2 linked regions of the Homo sapiens genome follow. The protein of the gene in region 2 interacts with the protein of the main gene of each other region in a biochemical or structural test. Each region holds a gene or a part of one and is shown on either strand. Other genes may lie near its edges. The genes, in order: MED1 and TGS1.

What was found.
Region 1: the proteins of TGS1 (region 2) and MED1 form a complex in vitro, tested with the Homo sapiens proteins (one study listed by BioGRID).

The regions. Positions count from the first base shown.
Region 1 is NC_000017.11:39,423,677-39,427,500, forward strand, and holds part of MED1 (mediator of RNA polymerase II transcription subunit 1), read right to left. Parts: intron 1,063-3,824; coding exon 951-1,062; intron 146-950; coding exon 21-145; intron 1-20. UniProt on the Homo sapiens protein: Component of the Mediator complex, a coactivator involved in the regulated transcription of nearly all RNA polymerase II-dependent genes.
Region 2 is NC_000008.11:55,797,306-55,801,129, forward strand, and holds part of TGS1 (trimethylguanosine synthase), read left to right. Parts: intron 1-1,608; coding exon 1,609-1,915; intron 1,916-3,824. UniProt on the Homo sapiens protein: Catalyzes the 2 serial methylation steps for the conversion of the 7-monomethylguanosine (m(7)G) caps of snRNAs and snoRNAs to a 2,2,7-trimethylguanosine (m(2,2,7)G) cap structure.

The sequences.
Region 1 (3,824 bases), on a different chromosome or scaffold from region 2:
TCCTGATGCTCAAAACTCACCTGTGCAGTTCTGCAGTTTCTGAACAAATGCTCTAGATACTGGGATTGGCTGGGGAAATTTCAAGAAGAAACAGGCAGGAAGATCAACACTGTTGGCACTGGTGATTGAGGAGAAGGAAGGGGTCCTTCAAAAAAAAGAGGGTGGAAGGGTTGGATTCTGACTTGATATAAAAATGAAAAACCCAAACACCTTTTTTTTTTTTGAGACAGATTTTCCCTCTTAATGCCCAGGCTAGAGTGCAATGGCGTGATCTTGGCTCACTGCAACCTCTGCCTCCCGGGTTCAAGGGATTCTCCTATCTCAGCTTCGTGAGTAGCTGGGACTACAGGTGCCCGCCACCACGCCCGGCTAATTTTTGTATTGTTAGTAGAGATGGGGTTTCACCATGTTGGCCAGGCTGGTCTTGAACTCCTGACCTCAGGTGTTCCACTTGCCTCAGCCTCCCAAAGTGCTGGGATTACAGGCGTGAGCCACCATGCCTGGCCACAAACACCTATTCTTAAACATGTATGTATCACACAGACACATAAGTACAAACTCTCAAAAGCTCACTCTGTGAAACTTCCTACCCCCAATTCCCAGACATGCTATTGGTTAACACTGTAGAATTTAATCAAACATTTATCCTGAGGCATGTTCTCCAGTTATTACTCCAATGTAACTAATGAACGTAAGATAAAAGGGGGCACTCATTAAGCCAGAGGAATTAGCACAGTTCTCTTCTTTCCCTTTCAGTGCAGAGAATGTGTTCTACGAGCCGACTTTGGAGAGGAACACTCAGATATCAAACAAAAGAGAAACCAATGAATGGATAAAACAAAAGGCCAACCTCTAGAAATTCAAGTGGGGTAACAGCCAGGTTAAAACTTGTTACATACTGCGCTTTGAGAAAAATTGACTTTGCTACTCTAAAATTATATTTAACTTACCATTTATTGTCAACTGGATGTGACCCCATAATTAATGGTGCAATTGGGAGTTTGTACACAGCAGATGTTCCTTCAATTGTCACTGATGCATTCATGCCCAAAGATCGAGAAACTGGGGATAGGAAAGAAAAAGGGTATTCCTCAAAGTAATACAAATGATGGGAATCACAGTATGTTTTAAGAGGTTAATTTTTGCAATATTTGTCAGCTATAATTTATCAGATGCTGTTATTCCCTTATTTATTTATTTATGTATTTATTTATTTATTTTGAGACAGAGTCTTGCTCTGTCACCCAGGCTGGAGTGCAGTGGCGCAATCTCAGCTCACTGCAAGCTCCACCTCCTGGGTTCACACCATTCTCCTGCCTCAGCCACCCAAGTAGCTGGAACTACAGGCGCCCATCACCATGCCCGGCTAATTTTTTGTATTTTTAGTAGAGATGGGGTTTCACCATGTTGGTCAGGATGGTCTCGATCTCTTGACTTCATGATCCGCCCATCTTGGCCTCCCGAAGGACTAGGATTACAGGTGGGATTACAGGTGTGAATCACTGCGCCCAGCCTATTTATTTATTTTTTTATTGGAGGCAGAGTCTCACTCTGTCCAGACTGGAATGCAGTGGTGTGATCTCGACTCACTGCAATCTCCACCTCCCAGGTTCAAGAAATTTTCATGCCTCAGCCTCCCACGTACATGGCATTACAGGAATGCACCACCATGCCTGGCTAATTTTTTTGTATGTTTTGTAGAGATGGGGGTTTCATCAGGTTGGCCAGGCTGGTCTCAAACTCCTGGCCTAAAGTTGATCCACCCATCTCAGCCTCCCACAGTGCTGAAATTACAGGCATGAACCACCAGGCACGGCCTGTAGTTCCTATAAAACTTAGAAATCAGGCCAGGTGTGATGGCTCATGCCTGTAATCCCAGCACTTTGGGAGGCTGAGGCGGGTGGATCACAAGGTCAGGGGTTCAAGACCAGCCTGCAGAAGACGGTGAAACCGCATCTCTACTAAAAACACAAAAATTAGCCAGGTGTGGTGACAGGCGCCTGTAATCCCAGCTACTCAGGAGGCTGAGGCAGGAGAATCACTTGAACCTGGGGGGCGGAGGTTGCAGTGAGCCGAAATCGCACCACTGCACTCCAGCCTGGGCGACAGAGTGAGACTCTGTCTGGGGAAAAAAAAAAAAAAAATTAGAAATCCTGGAAGTTACCTTTCTAATCAACCAATAATTTTTGTCAGTAAATAAAACACAAGAAACAATGCAGTCCAAAAACATCATTTTTGAAGGGTTCAGTATCAATATTTACTTATTTTTTCTTCAGAATGCATTTAAGTAGGATCATAATAAAAGGACAGGCTGGTGCACTGGCTCACACCTGTAATCCTAGCACTTTGGGAGGCCAAGGCGGGAGGATGGCTTGAGCCCAGGACTTCGGGGGCTGTAGTGAGCTGTGATCAAATCACTGTACGCCAGCCTGGGCAACACAGTGAGACCTACCCCGTCCCCCATGCCAAATTATAATAACAATAAAGGAGCCTGACGCCAAGGCTCGCACCTGTAATCCTAGCACTTTCGGAGGCCAAGACAGGTGGATCACTTCAGGTAAGGAGTTCAAGACCAGCTTGGCCAACATAGTGAAACCCCATCTCTACTAAAAATACAAGAATTAGCCGGGTGTGGTGGTGCATGCCTGTAGTCCCAGCTACTTGGGAGGCTGAGGCAGGAGAATCACTTGAACCCAGGAGGTGTAGGTTGCAGTGAGCTGAGATCGCACTACTGCACTCCAGCCTGGGTGACAGAGTGAGACTCCATCTTAAATAAATAAATAAACAAACAAACAAACAAACAATAAAGGGATGGAGTCAATGAGTGAAGCTACAAAGGGACCTAAGGAGGTATTAGTCCATTTCACTTTTTTTTGAGACAGAGTTTTGCTCTTGTTGCCCAGGCTGGAGTGCAATGGCACAATCTCGGTTCACTGCAACCTCCGCCTCCCAGGTTCAAGCGATTCTCCTGCCTCAGCTTCCTGAGTAGCTGGGATTACAAGCATGGGCCATCACGCCTGGCTAATTTTGTATTTTTAGTAGAGACAGGGTTTCTCCATGTTGGTCAGGCTGGTCTCGAACTCCTGACCTCAGGTGATTCGCCCACCTCAGCCTCCCAAAGTGCTGGGATTACAGGCATGAGCCACCGCGCCCGGCAGTCTATCTCTCTTTATCTTTTCTTGTATCAAGGGCAAACAGAAAATAATGTCCATTACCATAGTTCTTTAATTTAGAAAACTTCACTTTTTTTTTGATCAGTAACTCACTACGTTGCCCAGGCTGGAGTACCATGACTATTTACATGCACGATCATGGTATGCTACAGTCTCAAACTCCTGGGCTCAAGCAATCCTCCCGCCCAAACCTCCCAAGTAGCTAGGACTACAGGCATAAACTACCAGGCCCATCCTTCTACACTTTTTAAACAATGAGTAAGCTGATTATCTCAGGTCAGATCGTTTATATCTCTTCTTATGAGTTGCTCATTTACTTATTTATTCAAAAGTACTTTTTTTCTTTTTTTGAGATGGAGTCTCGCTCTGTCACCCAGACTGGAGTGCAGTGACGCAATCTTGACTCACTGCAACCTCCTCCTCCCGGGTTCAAGCAATTCTCTTGCCTTAGCCTCCTGAGTAGCTGGGATTACAGGCGCGTACCACCATGCTTGGGTAATTTTTGTATTTTTAGTAGAGACAGGGTTTCACCATGTTGGTCAGGCTGGTCTCCAAGTCCTGACCTCGTGATCTGCCCACCTCAGCCTCCCAAAGTGCTGGGATTACAGGCGTGAGCCACCGTGCCCAGCCCAAAAGTACTTATTAAGCTCC
Region 2 (3,824 bases):
CACCATCACAAGAAGAGAGTGGGAGAAACTGCCCCCATGATTCAACTATCTTTACCTGATTCCTCCCACAACACGTGGGGATTATGGGAACTATGATTCAAGATAAGATTTGGGTGGGGACACAGCCAAACCATACCAGTAGGATCCTAATAGTCCAAATTCTGATACAGCTTTATATTATAAGCTTTAATTCTGAGTTCTTCCAGAAGTGATCAGTCACAGTTTACACCTTGTAACAAGTTCACCCTGATAGCATGAAACACAGGCCAATTTATTGATTCACATTATTACCTGAAATATTCATATATTGGACTTTGCTATACCTGCCATCCAAGTACCTGGGAAACAAAAGTAGTTAGAAAATTGCTTGGTGTGATGAATTACCTTTCTATATTCTAAGGGGTAAAAAACACTTTCTAATGAGCAGAACCTTCATGTCAATCACATCTCCAGCAGCTCTTCAGGACAGTAGACCATAATCTTAGACTCCATGATGTCTCTGTCTCTGTTGTTCGTTTTTTAAGGCTAGTCAGATGACTCTTTTTCCCCTCAATACAGTGTCCTCCCTAACTTCAGCATACTTGTAAAATATGCTACATATATATAGCTGGTTTTATTTTGTATTACATTTCAGGTTGGTTGGCTGCTGGTGATGTTTTAATAAATATGTTCGTGGTGCTAGTTATATCTGAAACAGACTGCCTAGTATTAGTCCAGTCAGTGCCATAGGACTTTCCGTAATGTGTTGGATATAATAGCCCCTATGCATTCATCTATAGATGAGTGCAGAAACAGCTACTAAGCATTGCTGAGGAAAAAAGATATGTAACTGTTGTGTCTAACTTAGATACCTAATTTATTTATAGGCACATTTCTTTAGAGGAAGATTCTGGGTTGTTGCCCATCATGTCTACCACTTCATTCTAATTTACTCACTCTCAGGAAGGTCATGAAGACAAGATAGGAAGAATATTCTTGTTACAGAAGATGCAAAGAAGTATATGATCTGATGCTGAGCCTTGTTTACATTCCAAAGAACAAACATTTGCTGGGACATATCTTACTGGCTCTACTGTTGCATTAAAAGGCAACTTTGATTTTTTTCCAAGGTAGACTGCTTCTATTCTTACAGAAGAATTGGCCCTAAATCTTTTTAGGGTTCGTCTTTGATGCTAAGTAACATTTACATAGATTGTAGCTTGACCATTGCAGAAAGGTCTATATAATTTGAAAAACTAAAATTAATGATTCAGTAGTAAGTAGGTACATTTGTAATGTAGCTGTAGCACAGTTAAATTGTTAAGAACCCTTATGGAAAAGCCACTGGGACAGTTTGGCTTTATCCTCTTAGTATTTATTGATAGCAGGAAGTATTTAATCTGATATTTTTTTCCTTTTAAAGAAAACTTTTAATAAGGTCATGGCATGCCCAGATAGCATTCTGATTAGGTCAGAATTACTTACTATTAAGCTTGTGTGATGCAGTCTGCTTTTCAGAGCCAATAATTTTGACACAGCTTTTCAGTCAAGTCACAAATTGTAATAGGTAGGAAGATTCTGTGTAGTTTGGAATTAATTCCTGCTCATGATGTCATCTTAAAATTTAAGGTAGAAAAATTCCTCACATGGGTTAATAAACCAATGGATGAAGAAGCATCACAGGAATCATCTTCTCATGACAATGTGCACGACGCTTCCACAAGTAGTGATTCAGAGGAACAAGACATGTCTGTTAAAAAAGGTGATGACCTACTGGAGACTAATAATCCAGAACCTGAAAAGTGTCAGAGCGTATCTTCAGCTGGTGAACTTGAAACAGAAAACTATGAAAGAGACAGCTTGCTAGCAACTGTTCCAGATGAGCAGGATTGTGTTACTCAAGAAGTGCCAGACTCCCGCCAGGCAGAAACTGAAGGTAACACTAAATATGCTTCAACTTGCTAATGGATTTAGATAAAATTTTTTTTGTTAATATGTTTTTTCTTAGTTTTCACTTGTGAATCTTCTGTACCTAAGGAGTCACTGCTACTTATTTTTAAGTGAGAGAAGGCATATTAAGTGTACATGTTCTAACTGGCTATGACTTAGCACCCACAGCACTCCTCACTCTTGGCTGAGTGAACATGATCAAGTAGAAAAGGAAAGACTGTTGGGAGCATTGTGTCTGCAGACCACTGTCTGCAGTTCAACTTGGCCTCTGCTGGTACTCAGTTCCATGGGCTAAAGGTGACCATCCTTTGCCTTCTTCGTATGTGGTGTAGCTTTGGTTTACTTCTTCCTTTTTTTGTGTGAGACAGGGTCTCATTCTGTTGCCCAGGCTGGAGTGCAGTGGCACAATCACAGCTCACTACATCCTTGACCCCCAGGGTTCAAGCAGTCCTCCCACCTCAGCTTGAGTAGCTGGGACTACATGTGCATACCACCATGCCTGCTTAATTATTTAATTTTTTTTGTAGAGACACAGGGTCTCACTATATTGCTGAGGCTGGTTGCCAAAGGCTCAAGCAGTCCTCCCACCTTTGCCTCCCAAAGTGCTGGGATTACAGACATGAGCCACCATGCTCAGGCTGGTTTCCTTTTGGTGTGTTTTTGTGTGTTTGTGTGTGTGTGGTTGATGATGGTCATGTGTTTTTGATGGCACGTTAATATAAAAAGTATTCAGAGCAGTTGGCTCTAATGAATAAACTGAGTAACATTTTCAATTTATGCACTTTTGTATTCGAATTTTTATAGCAAAAGTTCTTATATAGTTTAATAATGGTATTATGAAACCATTATATTTATTGTGATCCTTCATCATATTTCTTTATTACTATGGAAAATAACTTATTTGAGTCTTGATTTTTTTTTTCTTAGTGCAAGTGTGGGTGTATGTGTATGTGTGATCTTTTTATCACATATTTCTTTACATTCTAAACAGCATACCTACAGTAGTTTACATTTATTTTATTATCAATGTTATAATAACCGATGTTCATATGACATTTGTAGGTTTGTGAAATGCTTTTATGTGTCTTATTCTCATTTAATCTGTAAGGTAGCCAGGGAAGTAGGTGGAATTATTTTCCATTCTGTAAATACAGAAAGTAAAGCTGAGAGAAATTTAAAAATTAGCCCAAGTAAGTGGCATAGCTAGGACTCATTACCAGCTTCTCCAATTGCTAAGTCCCATTTTCCTGCACTATCCCACTTCCATAAACACCAATTCTCATGATGCTGGTTATTTTTACCTGGGGTAGTACCACCTTCACAAGGGCATTTGGAAGATGCTGGTTGTTAGAATGACATTTGGAATTCTGGCATTTAGTACTCAGTTACTTAATGTTAGGTCATGTACAGGATGGTCTTGCACAACAAAGAATTATTCCACCCACAATGTCATTATACCCCCTGTTGACAAATAATCACCTTACTTTGCTATTGGTAACACTTGTTTGGGGATGGGGAGATCTGACCTTACTGAATCATGATGACACTTTTTACTATTTACAATGATCAGATGAACATATTAGGACATAGCCCTATCCTTGAGGACCATTTGAGTGTGTAATGGAGTCTTATTCTTTGTTAGCCATCACCTCTTGTTTTTATACTTAACTGTGAAAAAAGTCTCATCTTTCTATGTTGTTGCTTCTAATTTGCTGAAGACTGAAACCAAATAACCAAACTGATAAAAATTATTTAAGGAAAAAATCACTCTCTGAATGAATGAGATCCTTTTCCGTGGAATGGAGCTAGTGACCCTTGTTTCAGTTTCTCAGATGCCATGTGACTTCAATGTGGCTGACAGCTAGAGCCTAATCTAGTCCTTGATAGAAAGGAAA